2 separate regions of the Homo sapiens genome follow, and region 2 is linked to region 1. A link means that fine-mapping ties the variant in region 1 to the expression of a gene that starts in the linked region. Tissue or cell type: cerebellum. Region 1 holds a variant in brackets; the other region holds the start of a gene. All regions are shown on one strand. Distances are between the middles of the regions.

Region 1 (8,101 bases):
CCGCTGAAGAGGACGGGGTCCTGCAGGATGATGGAGAGGCGTGAGCGCAGGGTGTGCAGCGGCAGTTTGGCGATGTCAATGCCATCAATGATGATGTGCCCTGCATGGGTCCCAGTGAGGGTGCAGGGGAAGGCGGTGACTGCTGGGCCTCCTGTCATGTCTGACCACGTGCCAGGGCTGAGGCCTCATCTGGTGGCTGTGGGTACACGTGGGGTGCCCGCCTTACAACTCACCTTCGAACGTGTCCACCATGCGGAAGAAGGCAAGAGAGAAGGAGGACTTCCCACTGCCGGTGCGGCCGCAGATCCCGATCTGGAAAGAGAGAAGCAGGCACCGCCACTGGGACTCTGGGGCTGCTGGGAATAGCCTCTATGCTAGCTCTGGGTGTGTGTGCAGGTGTGGGAGGTCACAGGGTATCTTTTTGGCCTGGTTTTCTGACTAGTTTCTCTTTGGACACCACAGGTTTGGGCTTGTTTCCTGCAGTGGGTCCAGAGAGGGCTTACACAGGGACCGGCACGCAAGTGCAGGCATGGATGTCCATTTGCCTGGGCCTTGGTGTGGGTCTGGGTGTGCCGGGTACTTGGCTGAAGGAGAGCTGGGGGGCAGTGGTGTGTCTCTATGGGCATGGGTGTGGCAGGAGGACACAGGGGCAGCTGAGAGTGGTATGCATGGATGTGTCTGTGTGCCCCGCCCTACAATGGAGCCACCTCTGATCCCGTTGCTTCCTGGCACTTGGGTACCAACAGAAATTACAATACGGAGACAGATAGTGACATAGAAGGATGAGAGAGGCAGGGACAGAGGTACATCCCAAGGTCAGAGAATGACATGGACAGCCACAGCAAAGTGAGACAGAGACAAAGAGACAGAGTGGGAAACGAGAGGAGAGCTGGGCCAGGGCCATAGGCAGGGGCTCACCCTCAATACAAGGGTGGCCTCGCTGTCTGCCCCCAGGTCCCTGCCCTGAAGCTCGGGGCAGTGCCCTAGGGAAAGCCCCTGACCATTCGCAGAGAGGGAGGCCCTGACAAAGCCCGTGTGAGCTGGGGGAGTCCAGAGTGTCGGTCTCCTTGGTGGATGAGTGAGAAGACAAGGCCTGAGGGCAGCACTGGGGGAAGGCAATAGAAGGAGAGGAAAGATGGGCCCCCACAGGCCCAGGGCAGGAGACTGCGATGTCTGAATAGTGAGAGGCCTCGGCCCTGGAGGGCCACGAGGTGACTGCGAAGCCATCCAGCTCCGTGCATGCCCCATCCCCTGCTCACGCCTGTCCTGCAGCATTGGGTTGGGCCCGTGCTCTGACCTTCTGTCCAGGGGCGATGAGGGCATTGACGTGCTTCAGCACCGGCTTCAGGGAGCTGTCGTAGCGCACGCTCAGGTTCTGGATCTGGATCTTCCCTTGGTCTGGCCAGTTCTTTGGGATCAGCGATGGTGCTGGGGGCCGGGCTGGGCTCAGCCACCAGGCATGGGCCACAGCTAGTATCCGAAAGTGCCACCCCATCCCCAGGCTCCCTTGTGGCCCCCAACCCAGACACACTCCTCCTTGGACTCTTCCCCACCCCTCTCCCTGAGCCTCTCACCCAGGAGCCCCTCGTAGCTCTCTGCCTCGGTTTTCAGGAGCCCATGGATGCGCTTCACAGCCCCCAGCTGGAGCTCCATGTCTGCCAGGTTCCTCACCATCCAGTTGAGGTAGTTGGAGACCTGTGGGGAGCAAGCCAGTGGCGCACACTCCATGGTCGCTTAGTTCTGTCCTCAGCCACCAGAATGGCTCTTCTTAAGGCTGGAGAGGGGCCAGGGCCCCAGATTCCTTTTGCTGCCATCCACTGCCTGCTCAGAGCAGCCCTCCCTGGAGGCACAGGGAGGGTCAGTCATGTGGCTCCCCAACCTCCACCTGTCTGGGGCCTGGGCCCTGGGGCCTGCTGGTCAGCCTTCCTGCCCGCACTGTCCCTCTGGCATCAGATGCAAATGAAATTGGGGTAAGGCCTGGGAGTGTCTCATGTCTCCAGTGACGAAGGTGCTCCGGGAGTGCTGGTGTCTGACCCCTCCTCTGCCCTAGCCCACTGCCGCTCACCATTAGGGCGTAGGTAAGGCCCAGGCCCACCAGGCCAGCAGAGAGCTCCCTGTGCAGGGAGTTGGAGATGGAGGTCACCGCTGCGATGAGCACCACACATGCACCGATGTACTCCTGGGGAGGGAGAGGAGCTGACCTGGGCGCTCAGGGGTTAGAGCCACAGGCCCCTGTTCTACCTCACTCCTTTTCGGGGCAGAGAGCAGCTCAGCCAGGCCTCCACTCCAGCCCTGCAACTCATGCACACGTCACCAGACACACACAAGGGCTGCGAAGGCTGGAGCCCCAGGAGCCAACATGTCCCACAAGCTCATGCTCCCCTACCCCCTAGCCCCTGCACACCCTTTAACATGCACGCCTCAGCTGGCCCACAAACACACACAATGTGGGTGTCATATGACCCACTGCAGATACACATTCACCACAACTGTTCTTGCCACTGGCACACACCTCAGATACACAAGCCTCCAGGCAGTGATATGGGGAAAAGGAGCACAGGCTAGACACTAGGAGGACCACCAGGGCTGGGGGAAGCAGGAAGGCTTGGTGTCCACACGATCTGGTATCCTATCCTCTCTTTCATCCCCAGGTACCTGTGTGCTCTTGCTCTGGCCCCACCCTCCTATCAGAGGCCAGGGTAGAGGGGAATAGCACTTGCCATTCGGACTTCCAGCCATCTGTTGGCAGCTGTGAGGAAGAGGGAAGCAATGTTGTTGGAGTCTGTGTATTCGAGAAGCTTCTGCTGGAACCGGGCCTCATACCTGGAGGGAGGATGAGAAGCTCCTAAGGGAACAGTGTTGGTCCACATAGCTCCTAGGAGTCTCCCTACCTGCAGAGGGAGGCTCCAGGGCCCCTCCAGTCCCCAGACATGCCACCGTGGCCACTTCATGTAAGCTATCCCTCTCTGGAATGTCCACCCCACTCCTTTCTGCTTATTCAAACCTGTCCAGAATCCCCACCTCCTCCAAACTCTTGTTTTCACCCCAAGATCCATTTTCTCTAGGTCTTTCCCATTATAATAAGGGGCACCTCCCTTTACCCAGTTTCTCACCCAGGAATCACCTGGATTCACATTCAGCCCCTTGGCAAGTCCTCTTATGTCTCTCTCTAAAAGAGTCCTTGCCTCCCTCCCCCTCTATCCTGCTTCCTGCCCACCACAAACTCTCACCTGGACTACTGCATCAGCTTCCTGAATACGTCTACCTGCTGTCTCCCTACAGTCCATGCTCCACACAGTGGCTGGCTTAATCTATCTAAATCGCAAACTGTGTCCTCTCCCCCACTGTTTAGAATATTAATGATCTCCGGCCGGATGCGGTGACTCACCCCTGTAATCCCAGCACTTTGGGAGGCTGAGGC[G/A]GGCGGATCACCTGAGGTCAAGAGTTCAAGACCAGCCTGGCCAACATGGTGGAATTCTGTCTCTACTAATAATACAAAAATTAGTAGCTGGGCATGGTGGTGCACACCTGTAATCCCAGCTACTTGGGAGGCTGAGGAAGCCAGGATAATTGCTTGAACCCGGGAGGTGGAGGTTGCAGTGAGCCAAGATCACCTCACTGCACTCCAGCCTGGGTGACAAAGTGAGACTCTGCCTCAAAAAAAAAAAAAAAAAAAAAAAAAAAAACAAATAAAAAAGAATATTAATGACCTTCCACTGCTTATAGGATGAAGAACCCCCTCCTGCCAACCTAATTCCTGCCACAAACACCCCACACACTATGCTGCAGCCACTCAGCTTTTTAAAAGCTCTGTGACAATACTAAAGTCTTCCCTACCCCAGGGCCTTTGCACACACTATTCCCTTTTCCTGGAAGGCTTTTGCCCTTGCTCTTCATAAGGCTGGCTCAACTCAACCTTCAGGGCTTGCCTTAAATGCTGCCTCCTCAGAGAGGCTCTTCCTGGCTACTACCTTACTATAAAGTAGGTTTCCCCTATTATTGTCTGCAACCTGTTTGCTCCACAGTATCTGCTGTACATGCATTTCTCTAGCTATTTATAATCATCTCCCTCAATAGACTGCAAATTCCATGAAGATGTTTTATTCACCAATATACCCCAGCACCTGGCACTATCAATAAATATTTGTTGGATGAATGCATGGCACTCCCCTGACCCTCTGAAATTGATGGAATCTCTCTGCACAGGGAACTCTGGAGGCTTCTTTCTCATCCTTAGGTCCTCATCATGTTTTCCCTGAGTTACTGCGCATGGACCTGCCTCCTTTCTCTGATCAACCTGGGCTGCCGTCATCACTCTCCTTGGCCGCTTCCCTCAGACCTTGCTGACGTAGGCCCGGCCCAGAGGAGATGCAGGAGCACTTGTTTGATGATGGAGGAAGGAACGAAAGAAAAGCTGCCTCATCATCGCTGGTTTGATAGGACCAAACTCAGGGGACACGGAGGCACCCAAGACGTACCTTACTGGGCATTTGCTTTTCACCCTGGAAGGTGTTAGTTCAGCTTTGATTGTCTCTGCGTGGAGAGAGGGCATGTGTCTGAGGGGACTGAAGGGAGGTTCTGAGGTGGGAGAGAGCATGCTACTGCACACCCCCAGGGTGGAGACGTGTGGGAGGGTGACGTGTCTGCAGTGAGTGTGAAACCATGCCTGAAGGGTAGAGTAAGTGCGTGTTGAAAATGTGTGTGCATCAGGGCATGTGCGTGTTATAGGAGTGTGAGGCGCTCAGCGTATGTGGGTCTCAGGACTGTGTGAGTTGAGGGTCGGCAAGTGTGAGATGGGAGCTTCTGCCACAGGCGTGCGACAGTGTGTCTGAGGACTAGAAAAGAGCCCCAGCCTCGGAGCCATGTAAACCCAGGTTGGAGCCTGAACATCACAACTTCCTGGCTGTGTATCAGGACTGAGACTCAGTTTTCTTATGAAAAAAATGGGGAAGTGATAGTTCCTACATGAACGAAAACAACCTCCGAGCCCGCCACTGAGCCCAGTGCTGGGCACTCTTGAAACTCTTTTGGGAAAAAATAAGATCTCTTAGGAAAGCCCAGAAGGTCAGGCAAACCTGGGTTCCAAGCTCAGCGCCAGCCCCCGCAGTCTGTGTGACCTTGGATTGATTACCCAGCCTCTCTGGGTCTCGCTTCTGCATCTGGAGAATGTGGCGATTCGTACCTATGTTATGTGGTCCTTGTGAGGATTAAATGTAATAATGCACATACAACACTTAGCACGGTGCCTGGCATACAGTAAGTGGGCAATCAATAAGTGCTAATAGCTCTCAACAGGCTGCTGGATTAAAGCCAATGCATTAAATGTGTATGGGGTTGATTAAAAAGCCTTTCATTCAAATTTAAAAATCATTCACCGTGTCAGTAGGGTGTGGAAGACCTCACTGGGTAGCAGTGGCTCTGGCTGACCACAGGTTTGGCCTGATCTGAGGCTGTTTACAGGAAGCTGGGATCTGCACACAAGGGGCTGTGGCCCACTCTAGAAGAGTCACCATCTCTCTACCCCAGGGCCCTCTGAGACACCAATTGAGAGAGGGAAATCACCAAAACTTAGAGCAAAGGCTAGGCTCAGTAATGTCGAGGGACCTGGAAGTTGAAGGAACGGGAGAAGTTCAGGCTTGAGAAGAGGAGGCTGGGAGGAGACTCTAGAGTCATAATCCAGTCCCCAGCAAGCTTCTTTGTGGAAGACACAGCATAGGCTTGTCCAGGGGCAAGGGATGTCCAGGGAGCAGCGCCAAGGCCAGGGCAGAGCTTTGCTCTGCTCTTCTTTACTTAGACAAGATCCCTAAGAGGTGGATTTCCACTGGCCCTAGGTGCTCCAGGGTGGGCAGAGGGGCCTGGATACCTCTCCAGGGCTGAAGCTGGACTTCAGGGGTTGGGGGGAGGAGATGTAAGCCTCTCTGGCCCTTGGCTGGTCCTTGTGCCCTATGGTTACTCCTGGACACAGTGCTTGGTGTCTCATGGTTACTGTCATACTTCGTGCAGCTGTGCCACCCTAAAAATAACCTATTATCACTCTCTGGATGAAGATGAGAAAAGAGCCCAACTTTGTGTGTCAGGGGTCTCTGGCCTGCCTGACTGGAAGAGAGATGCCTCTGGAGATCAGACAGACTCTTGGGGAGTGGGAAACAACAGCTTCCCTCATTCCCCAGGCAACCTCAGATGCTCCTGTCCACCCCAACATCACCACTCAGGGTAGTGAGACGATGGCAGGGGCACTGAAGTTTTCAGGAATTCCTCAGCCTGGTGAACTCCTGCCCCTCCTTTGAGTCCTAGTTCTGATGACACCTCTGGTACAAAAACCTTCCCGGACTGTCTCTCTTCTATGCTCCCACAGCCCTTGAATCCGCTTTTTTCAGAATACTTGTCACGTGGATTTATCCTGGCCTGCTCAAAGTCTGGGCTGTAAACGCCTGCAGGGCAGCGGCTTATTTGACTCATCTTTTTAGTGCCTGGCATGGGGCTTAGCACATAGTCGGGGCTTAGTAAATGTTTGTTGCATGAACAAATAGGTTCAAGTCTGGGCTTTGTGGCACCTTACACAGAGAGGTTATAGAACGTCTCTGTGCCTCAGTTTCCTTGTCTGTGCAATGGAAATGACCATTCTCAGCACCGAGGGTTGCAGTGCAGAATGAGTGGGATTGGCCTGTACAGTACTCAGCATAGTGTTTGGCACACAGGGGCTCCTTAATAAAAGAAGGGCTTAGGGTGGCCCGCACCTAAGGCCCTTTCTAGCGTTGATACATGAAGACTTGTCCCAGCTTTGTCTCTTTTCATGCTCTGCCTCACAGAGGTCCTGGGCTTGTCTACAGAGCTGGAATTTTCCTCTCTAGAACATTCAGTGGGAGCCCACCTGGCCTGTCCCTGCTGGTGGATATCCCTTGGGCCTTGGGACCTGAGGCAGCTTGAGAGAGAACGTGTCCTTGGCCTTCCCAAGTGGAGTCCTGAGAATCAAATCTCATGGCCTGTGCCCCCTGGCCCCACCCCTGTTCCACTCCTACCTTGGGGGAATGTGGACTCGTACCTGAAGGCCCGGATGGTGGTGAGTCCTTCTACGGTTTCGGCAAAGTGTGAGAGAAGTGGAAGCTGGGTGGTGTCATCCAGCTGCTGCAGGTCCCTGTGGCGGGGAACAGAGTGGAACAGTTAAGAGGGCAGGCTCAGGGCTCGGCCTGGGCCTGAAGCCTAGCTCCACCTGCTACCGCTGTGTGGGTGAATGGCCTTACCTCTCTAGGCCTCAGCTTCTTACCCCGTGAAGGGGGAAGACAATGCCACCAGCCCATTGAGCTTTTGTGAGCACTGAATGAGATCGTTTATGTACAATGCTTAGACACAGCCTGATGTGGGGCACAATTACTGCTGTCCTGGGCATTGTCAACCCCAGGTCGCCATCTGTCCCTGTACTTCTGCTGCACAGCCTGGAGCTGAGCTAAGGCTGGGCAGGCAGTGCTAGTTCCATTTTACAGGTGAACAATCTGAACCTTGAGACAGCTGGCCAAAGGAACAGAAGACCAAACTCAAAGCGTTCAACCCCGTCTTCCGCTTACCCCATCAAGGAGCTCTTTAGACCCTGGCCAGTGATGTGCTGAAATGATAGGTTTCGTCTCGGGGTAAGGCCAGAGGTTTCCATGGCAACAGAATTGCCTCCTGCTCCCCAAAGCTGCACCTCGACAAGCACATCAGTGCCAGGGAGGCCAGTTTGGGATGCAGGAAGTTGATTTCCCTGATAAACCATCTCCAGGGTCAGACTGGGTGCCACAGAGACTGGGCTGTTTCTCTGGCAGAAGAAATGAACTTTGTAGAACAGCTTGTGCAGCACTTTGAATTTTTTGAGTGTCAAAAAGCTATGTTGTTCGTGTGGGTGTCGGGCCATTCTGGATCATCCAAGCAAAAAGCCATTTATACAAATGTTGATCCTTTGGGGCAGGTAATTGTGTCCAAAATGCATCTAAATTTTATTATTGCTAATAAGTATCTCAACTCTAGTTTCTAGCCAACTATGTGCACTTGGGAAAGGTACTTAACCTTTCTGACCACAACCTGCAGTCAGAAATATATTTTATCTCACAAATCAGTACTCACACAC
Region 2 (8,101 bases), 78 kb after region 1:
AGGGGTGTAGGGGTGGGGGTGGAGGCGGACTTGTCACGTGCTTGTGTAGCAGTATGCCTTCTGGTCTTCTTGCTGGTCTAGGGACTTTAATAAGCAGGCAGAGCTGCTGCCTCCAAGTCAAGCAGGTATTTTAGAGATCACTGCTGAAGCCAGGATGCAGGGACATTGGGGAAGGGAAGGTGGGGAACGGGAGGGAGGATGAGGGAGCCTATCCCCTGCCATCCAACTACAGGAGCCAGGCAGCACTGCAGGAGTGCAGTCTGGGTATAATCTGATTCCAGCTCAGGGGGCGCTGGACCTCAGATACTCAAGCCAAATATCCCTCTCCTCCACCACTCCCTCTCCTGGCAGTCTCTCATCCTTGCTGGTTACTGGATTCTTCCTTAGTGAGATGGCTGCTCCCGCTCCTCTTCTGTCCCTGACTGCTGACACACCATTTCTGTCTGCAGTTATTGCTCACCTAGACTACTGCAGTCAATGCTAAGTCCTGCTTCTATTATACCTCTAGATTCTCCCTGCCTCCAGCCTGCGCTGAACACCTCAGGTTCCCACCTAAAAGTGTTATGCTGATGACATCTCTCTTCTGTTCCAAACTGCTGACCAAATCCGACCCAAACATGCAGGCTGGGATTCACAGTCCTCCTGAGATGCCCCAACCTGGGTTCCCAGCCTCAGCCTCCATCGCTCCCCAGCCTGTGTTTAATGCTCCAGCCCCTGCGCTGCTCCCTAGCCCTACCTGCTTTTCTCTTTGGTGCCTTTTCCCTTCCCTCAGGCACCACCAGTTCTCTCTCTCCTTCCTCCTCTGTGTGTCTGAAGCCTAGTCACCCTTCCAGACTCCGCTCCAAAGCCCTCTCAACCATGGAGCTTGCCCAATTCTGCCTTCCTCTCACCTCCCAGAGTACTTATTTGTAACATGGTTTCATTCATTCTCCTAAGGACCCAATAAATGTTTATGGACTGAATAATGTTTATGTTTATCACATGCCTTGCACTGTGAACACAAAGATGAACAAGACTCAGATTCTAACTCTTAGGCCTTTCTGACTCTGAAGACAGTTTTGCAAATAGACATAAACTTTAACATACAGTGTGATCTGTGCTGTAGCAGAGGTGTGAGGAGTGTGCTGTGAGGCCCAAACGGAAGGTGGGCATGGGGAATGAGGCCAGAGATAGGTGGGGCTGACTGTGAAGACCTTGAATGGTGGGCTGAGGATCTGAGACCACATCTTCAAAACAGCTGAGAACCAAGGAAAGGTCTTATGCAAGAGTGGGTGGCATGGTTAGATTTTTTTTTTTTTCCAAGAAGGTAACTCCGGCAGGTTGTAGAAGAGGCCAGACATTTTTCACTGGAGTTGTGGCATTCTAATAGGCTCTAGCATTATTTCACTGGGACTTGGCATGCAGGTCCGTGTTCCCTCTGCTCTCCTGGACTGATGGCAGGGCCTGGGACTCACTTGCGTCCAGTGCCCAGCTCAGAGAGGTTGGCACATAGAAGACACTGAGCTGCTGGATGTAGTAACAAAAGACATGGGCTTGTGGAATATAGGTGAGCTAGGATCTCCTTGGGCCTTTCAGGAAGTACCCTGGAGCAGATTCACTTTCCTGAGTCCTCAGACAGTCACTCACCCATCAGACAGGATGCCCTCTGCAATCTCACACACCAGGACGAAGAGCAGCATGAAGGTCAGGATCCACCGCAGGTTGTGCCCAGGGAAATGAAGCCATGTGCTGTGGTGGATGTGCACCTTGGAGCTCTGACTTCCCCATCCTGCAGGGAGAGACAGTCAGAGGCAGGATGCCTGCCCACTTGGAGGAGGAAGAGGGTGCATGAACCCCAGAAAGGTGCTTGGGCATTGGGTCCATGGTGAGGGTGACACCTACACATGAGGATCCCCAAGGCTGGTACACACAAACTAAACGTCCAACTCATTCAGCCTGGTCCTATGCTGGTACCTCCCCCACCACACCTTTTTACTGAGACAGGGTCTTGCTCTGTTGCCTCTGCTGGAGTGCAGTGCCACGATCACGGCTCACTACAGCCTTGATCTCCTAGGCTCAAGTGATCCTCCCGCCTCAGCCTCCTGAGTAGCTGGGACTACAGGCGCACATCACCATGCTCAGCTAATTTTTAATTTTTTGTAGAAAGGGCGGGGGGGGTCTCACTATGTTGCCCAGGCTGGTCTCGAACTCCTGGACTCAAGCAGTCTTCCTGTCACAGCCCACCAAAATGCTGAGATTACAGATGTAAGCCACTGTGCCCTGCCAAGGTACCCCATTATACATACTAACTTCTTGTGTGACAAGTCATCAGGTTAATAAACCGTTTGGCTGAGAACAGAAGTGTAAATGCTGTTCTTTTTTGATTTTTGATGCACATATGAGCACATATTTTGTATGTTTTATTTCTATTTCTATCTAACTGTCTTTGTTAATAACTAGCAACTCTGCTTCTGCAGCAACCTCTTGTAAATCTAATTTTGTGACAATCTTTCCTTTCTTCCCCAAAGCTGTATATGAATTTTAAGATTTGCTTGTTTTCTTAAAGTGAATGAACACGTTTTGGGGATGCAGGGGACACCCTATGAGTTGATAGACTTGACTGGTCTGGAAGAGTCAAGGTCTTGGAGAGAGATGGGGGGGACCTCAGTGGAGAGGCACGCACGATTGTCCCGGCCGTGGCGCCCAACTTTGCAAGCAAGGGCGCCGGGGTCGCTGCGTCGGCGAGTCGGAGCTACTTTGCGCAGAGCCTGAGAAGTTGCGCTCTGGAGACACATGCCCGGGTGGGGTGGCGGGGGAAGGGAATCCAAGTCCCTAGCTCTCGCCTCTCCTCGCCCAGGGCGCGGGCCTGGGACTGTCAGAGATCACGGACCACTGCGCGGCTCAGCCCGGTGAAAGCATAGGGGTTAGCTGGGCCTCCATCCCAGACTCCAAAGCACAGGCTTCCCTCTTCCCTAGGCCCAGCTGCGGCTGACAGGGAGGCTGCCTTGCGGGAGGGGTGACCCGGCTCCCTAAGCTGCGCCACGGAGGGTGAGGCCCGACCCCTCTCCAGTTTCCCACTGCGTGCTGAGACCTCCTCTTTCCCTTTTCCCCATCCCAGCTCTTGGCCCTGCAGAAGCAAAACTTGGTGATCCCATGGGTCACAAACGTCCGCTGTGTTTGGCGCGGGATCGGGGGCACCGGGGGAGTGAAGGGATGAGCTGGTGTGCGAGTGCGGGGACCGGCGGGCAGGACACAGGGCAGGGGACCCCGGGAACGAGGCGGACGGCGGTCGCGGGCCGGAAGGGGACGCCGAGCGGTGCGGCGCGCAGCGCCTCCTCCTCCCTCCCTGCTCTCCCGTCCCCTCCTCCGCGGCTCGCTGCGCGCACTCACCAATGAAGAGGATGGGGAAGGTGATGAAGAGTAGGAAGACGTGCGGCACCACGTTGAGCGCGTCCACAAAGCAGCCGTTGTTGAGGACCCCCTGGTCCACCCGGTAGGCGGCCGAGTGGTTCTCGCTGCCGCAGAAGGCCAGGGGCATGGCGGCGCGGGCGCGGGCTGGGCTCGGGCTCAGCTGGCTCCGCTGGCTCCGCGCGCCTGCCGCGCCTCTGTCCCTTGCAGCTCCGCCGCCCGGCCCGGCCGTCAGGCCCCCGCCCCCCGGGCCCCGCCCAGCCCCGCTGGCCTCCCCCTCCCTCACCCCGCCCTGCTCCACCACCTGCGGGGCCGGGGGGCGGCGAGGAACCCGACCGGCCCTGCTACGCTTGCGCCCACCTTCCAGATGTGGAGGCGCGTGCTCCCAGATGTTGCCGGGGTGGCTTCGTGAGTGCCCTGATGCACGCGTGCGCTGGGGGAGAGGGGAAAGGCAGGCTAAGATGGGGAGTGGGGTGTGGGCACACTGGAGTCTGGGTGGGAAAGGAGGGTGGGGCGTGCAGAAGAGGAGAGAAGGGCCCGCAAGGCCTGGAGTGGGCGGGTTCAGGGTCCCGAGTGTGAGTTCACCTGGGCGTGGTGCGGATGGATGTAGAGAGCCGAGGGATGGCGCAAGTCTCCACCCAACATGGATGAGAAAAGTGGGGCAGAACGTTACCTTGTGGTGGTGGTGGTGGTGGGGTGGGGCTTGGACATTTTCAAAAGTGGTCCCAGGTGGGGCACTCCTAGGTACTGCTTTACAGCGTATCTGGCACTTTCACACAAGGGATGTCCCAGAACTCTTGCTAAGTACAGGTTCTAATCGCTTCCAATTTTCTGATGGGGAAACCCAAGCTGCGAGGGAGCTGAAGGGAGGCCAGTAACATGACTTCCCCCAAGGTCTCAGTGCCAGCAAGCAGGGAAGCATAGCTTGAACCCAGCTCCTCAGGTCCCCCGTCCCCACCCCCATCATTTGTACTCATGCCTCTGGTACATGACAACCTTACAGCGACTGGCAGACCAATGGGTAGAATGGGTGACAGCCCCAGGCTGATAAAGAGGAGTTTAAGAAACGCATCTGGCCAGATGGATGTGAGGCAGTGGAGAGGGACTGAAATTCTTAACCTCACCTGGGACAGGCTTAACAGTTGGAGGACACCGTGCAATTGTAAAGACAACATTATGTCTTCCTATACGTTTTGGAGAGATTCTCACAAGACTGTGGCCCAAAGAAGTTTATATTGTATGTAGAAAGAACAGAAGATGGGATTTGGGGGTTAGATTTAAGGAGAACTTTCCTAGTTAGGGTATGAAGCATAAATGCACATGTTCTTAGGAACAGTCAGGGGAACACAAAAGAAAGACCCCTTCAGCCCCTTTGCCTACAAGCTTCACTGAGCCTGCCCTGAGGCTGCTGAGCCTGGTGAGCCTCTCCAGCACGCTGTCAGCAAGGCCGAGGCTCTGCCCAGGCCCTGAGGCAGAGGGCAGATGGGGTTGGGTGAAAAGCCTTGGGAAAGCAGGAGTTCAGGGTCTGAATGCCTCAGTCTCTGACTTTGGAGAATTTCTCAGAAGCCAAAAGATGTTTCTTGCAGCATCAGCCAAAATAGTGAAAACTTGGTGGCAAGAAATATCCAGCACCAGGGACAGGGGTTAATCAACCTTGAAAAATGCAACTGCTGGGACGGTGCTAGCTGAGTCTGTGTAGTCAATAGAAAAACTTTACAAGATAGTGTCAGGTGAAAAACGGCAAACAAAATTGTGCTTCCCATGATTATAGCCGTACGAAATATGTATACTTGCATGAAGCCTGCAGGGAAAGGTCAGACTTGGAAATTTGGTAAGGCGGTGCTCAGTATGTACTGGCTGCCGTCGCTGTGCTTATCCTCATTCCCTTTCTTTAAAAATGAGACAACTGAGGTTCAGAGAGATGAGATGACAGGTCCATGGTCACCCAGTAAGATTTTTTCTTTTAGTTTGTTTTTCTTGCTTTCAAGGTTTTTTTTTTTCATATTTTCTGCAATGTTGTTATTTTCTTTTGTAGTTACAATTTCAGTTTTTTCACACTTTCAGCAATGCTATCTTTCTTTTTAGCAGTAATAATATATTTACTTTTAAAGAACAGGGCTCCTAGTCCTGGCTCTACTACTACTAGTTGTGTGATTTGGGGGCAGGTTACCATTCTGCACTTCAGTTTCCTTATTTCTAAATGGAAAAGATAATAATATGGAACCCAGAAGATTAAGATGAGATCATGGGTATGAATGTGCTTTGCAAGTTGGGGAGATAGTCCAAGCTACTTCATCCCATGGGTGACTACACACGGCAGCCCCTTGATCAATCAGGGTTATTTAATGGTCTCTCCCTCACCCCACATTGCCTGGTGCAACCCTCACACTTGCCTATTCTGGGTCATTTGAAACAAACAAAAAGTCTGGTGTTAAGGGAGCATCAACTGGGACTAAGAGAGTGTTAAGTCTGGAGTCTTGGGGACTCGTGTTTGCCATCTCTAGCACAAACTTACTGTGTGACTGTGGACAAATTCCACCTTTCCCTGCACCTAGGTCTACACTGAGGACATGCACCACACTGCCCACCATGTGGGTGGGAGAATTACTTTGAAAAAGTGTGGAGTCAGGTGCGCACGGAGGCATGAAAGGACTTCCTTTGTAGTATATGGGTTGTATTCCTGGAATCAACCCAAATGCTCATCAGTATGGGGCTGGTTCAAACAGACAAAACCCAAACAGACAAAAAACAGATATTGTCTGTACTGTGGGATACTGTGGAGCAAGCGCAGAGAATAGAGTTATGCTTACTGGCAGGGGAAGATGTCCAAGACACAGACGCAGAGCGGTGTGTGGCATACAAAATCATTCATGTCTGTAACAGGGCTACGTCTGCCTCTGTCGGGGAGATGCTGGGTCTCTGGTGCTTCCCCACCTCTAGCCATGCCTTTTGTTTCTCTTGCTAGGGGCTGGAAGAAGGTCAGACTCTGAGAGCTTGCTTTGAGCAAGGGTACCCCGCTCTGAGAATTCCCAGCCATTCTCCTGGCAAAATGAAAACTAGGGCTGGATTTCCGGGATTGGATTCTCACACTCACCGGCTACTGGGTGGGTGTGGCCTCAGGCAGGGTGCAGTAAAGGGGCTGGTGCAGAGCTTCAGAAAAGTCCTTTCCAGATCCCTTGAGCCAGGGAGGTTAAGGCTGCCGTGAGCCATGATCGGGCCACTGCACTCCAGCCTGGGCGACAGAGAGAGACCCTGTCTCAAAACAAAACAAAACAAAACAAACAAACAAAAAGTCCCTTCCAGCTCTGATGTTGTTCTGGCCTTAGTGCCTTTGTCTCTATCTGGCTGACTAGGAGTGCCAGTGTTCCAGTGACCATGGCAGAGGGGGTCATTACAATGACAATGGTGACGTAATGGAGTGGGGTTATAGTTGAAGAAATAAACCCTTTCAATAACCACAATCAACAGCGGCCTGGTTAAAAACAGACAAAAGCAAAACTCATGGTGTGACCTATACTATGGAATAGTGGAGAACAAGTACAGAGCCTAAGTTCGGGTGACCCTTACTGACTGGGAAAGGTGTGTCCTTTCCTGTCTCCTTCAGGTGCTCAAAGCCTGTATCCACAGGGGAACTTGGAAGACTGTAGAACCAGTGAAAGAGAGGACTGATGTAGAGACAAAATGTCTTAACTGGAACCTGGGAGGGAGAAGTGATCTCCTGTCTCATCTCCATCCTGCCCCATGTCAGGAGGAGGGAAGTAGAGAGAGAAGTTCTTTTGAGAGGGAGCCTGTGCCCAGCCTCCCTGCCTGTCTGTTGTAGAGGTGGCTGGGGGACAGCCACCCAGAAAGGGCAGGTTGTGTGTAGACTGTGTTAGAAAATCCATACAAGGGCTTTTTAGGTTTTTAAGATTATTTTTTTTTTCCTGTAGAGATGGAGGTATTACTGTTTTGCCCAGGCTGGTCACAAACTCCTGGCGTCAAGGGATCCCCCCCGCCCCCTAACCTTGGCCTCTGAAAGTGTTGGGATTACAGGTGTGAGCCACTGTGCCTGGCTCACATACAAGGGCTGTTTTGAAGAAAGGTGTTCTTGTCCCAGGGCAGGGCCTCTAGACAACAGAGGCAGGGGACCCTCAGCCATACTTGAATGGCGAGGGTGAGGCAGGAACAAGACGAACTCTCCCCGGTCTCTTGGCATCACGTAACTGGAGAGGTGGGGAAGGAAATCCAAGAAGGCCCAAGGCTAATGTTTTCTGCCAGTCTAGTGGGATGGGGACTTGATACAGAAATTAAATAACATTCTTGCTCTTGCCCACTTAAGTTTTGGTCCAAGATCCCCCTCACGACAGTAACACAATGCAGAAGGGTAACTCCTACGGATGGCCTGGTTGCTCTATACCCTTGAGGCCACTTAAGGTCAAACTCAGCATCTCCTTGCATCCTCTAAAACAGCCAACACCCAGTCCATTGGTTTAAAAAAATGAAAGCTTTACTGAGCTCTTTACAGAGAGCTAGAAAAGTTGTAATTCACACAACTCACAGCAGAAACTTAGTAAACCCCCGTATTTCTCCTGTACCCCCAGTGGTCTTCTCCTTTGTGTGTATCTCATATCTCCTCTTCCTTTCTTCCACACGGTGTCTTTTTTAAAAAACATGCCCATTGTGACCCAGAGCAAGTCAATATTTGCCTTCAGCTTGCTTACCCACTTAGGACTTC

What was found. PIP is the estimated chance that this variant, and not a neighbour inherited with it, causes the effect.
Region 2: ABCC8 starts here. The variant in region 1 is fine-mapped to the expression of ABCC8 in cerebellum (GTEx, PIP above 0.99).

What each region holds. Positions count from the first base shown.
Region 1 is chr11:17,395,619-17,403,719 of GRCh38, forward strand. ABCC8 (ATP binding cassette subfamily C member 8) reads right to left here. Exons shown (of 39, transcript NM_000352.6): 29 at 7,043-7,135; 30 at 2,721-2,823; 31 at 2,066-2,179; 32 at 1,575-1,695; 33 at 1,298-1,428; 34 at 234-312; 35 at 1-100. Among named protein-coding and RNA genes, the nearest start is that of KCNJ11, 11 kb to the left of the region's middle. The variant G/A (reference allele first, on the strand shown) is at 3,422.
Region 2 is chr11:17,473,260-17,481,360 of GRCh38, forward strand. It overlaps ABCC8 (ATP binding cassette subfamily C member 8), which reads right to left and starts at 3,586. Exons shown (of 39, transcript NM_000352.6): 1 at 3,370-3,586; 2 at 1,627-1,768. The coding sequence starts at 3,517. It overlaps LOC124902641 (a long non-coding RNA gene), which reads left to right and starts at 3,392. Exons shown (of 2, transcript XR_007062609.1): 1 at 3,392-3,472. RefSeq lists an enhancer at 2,242-2,798.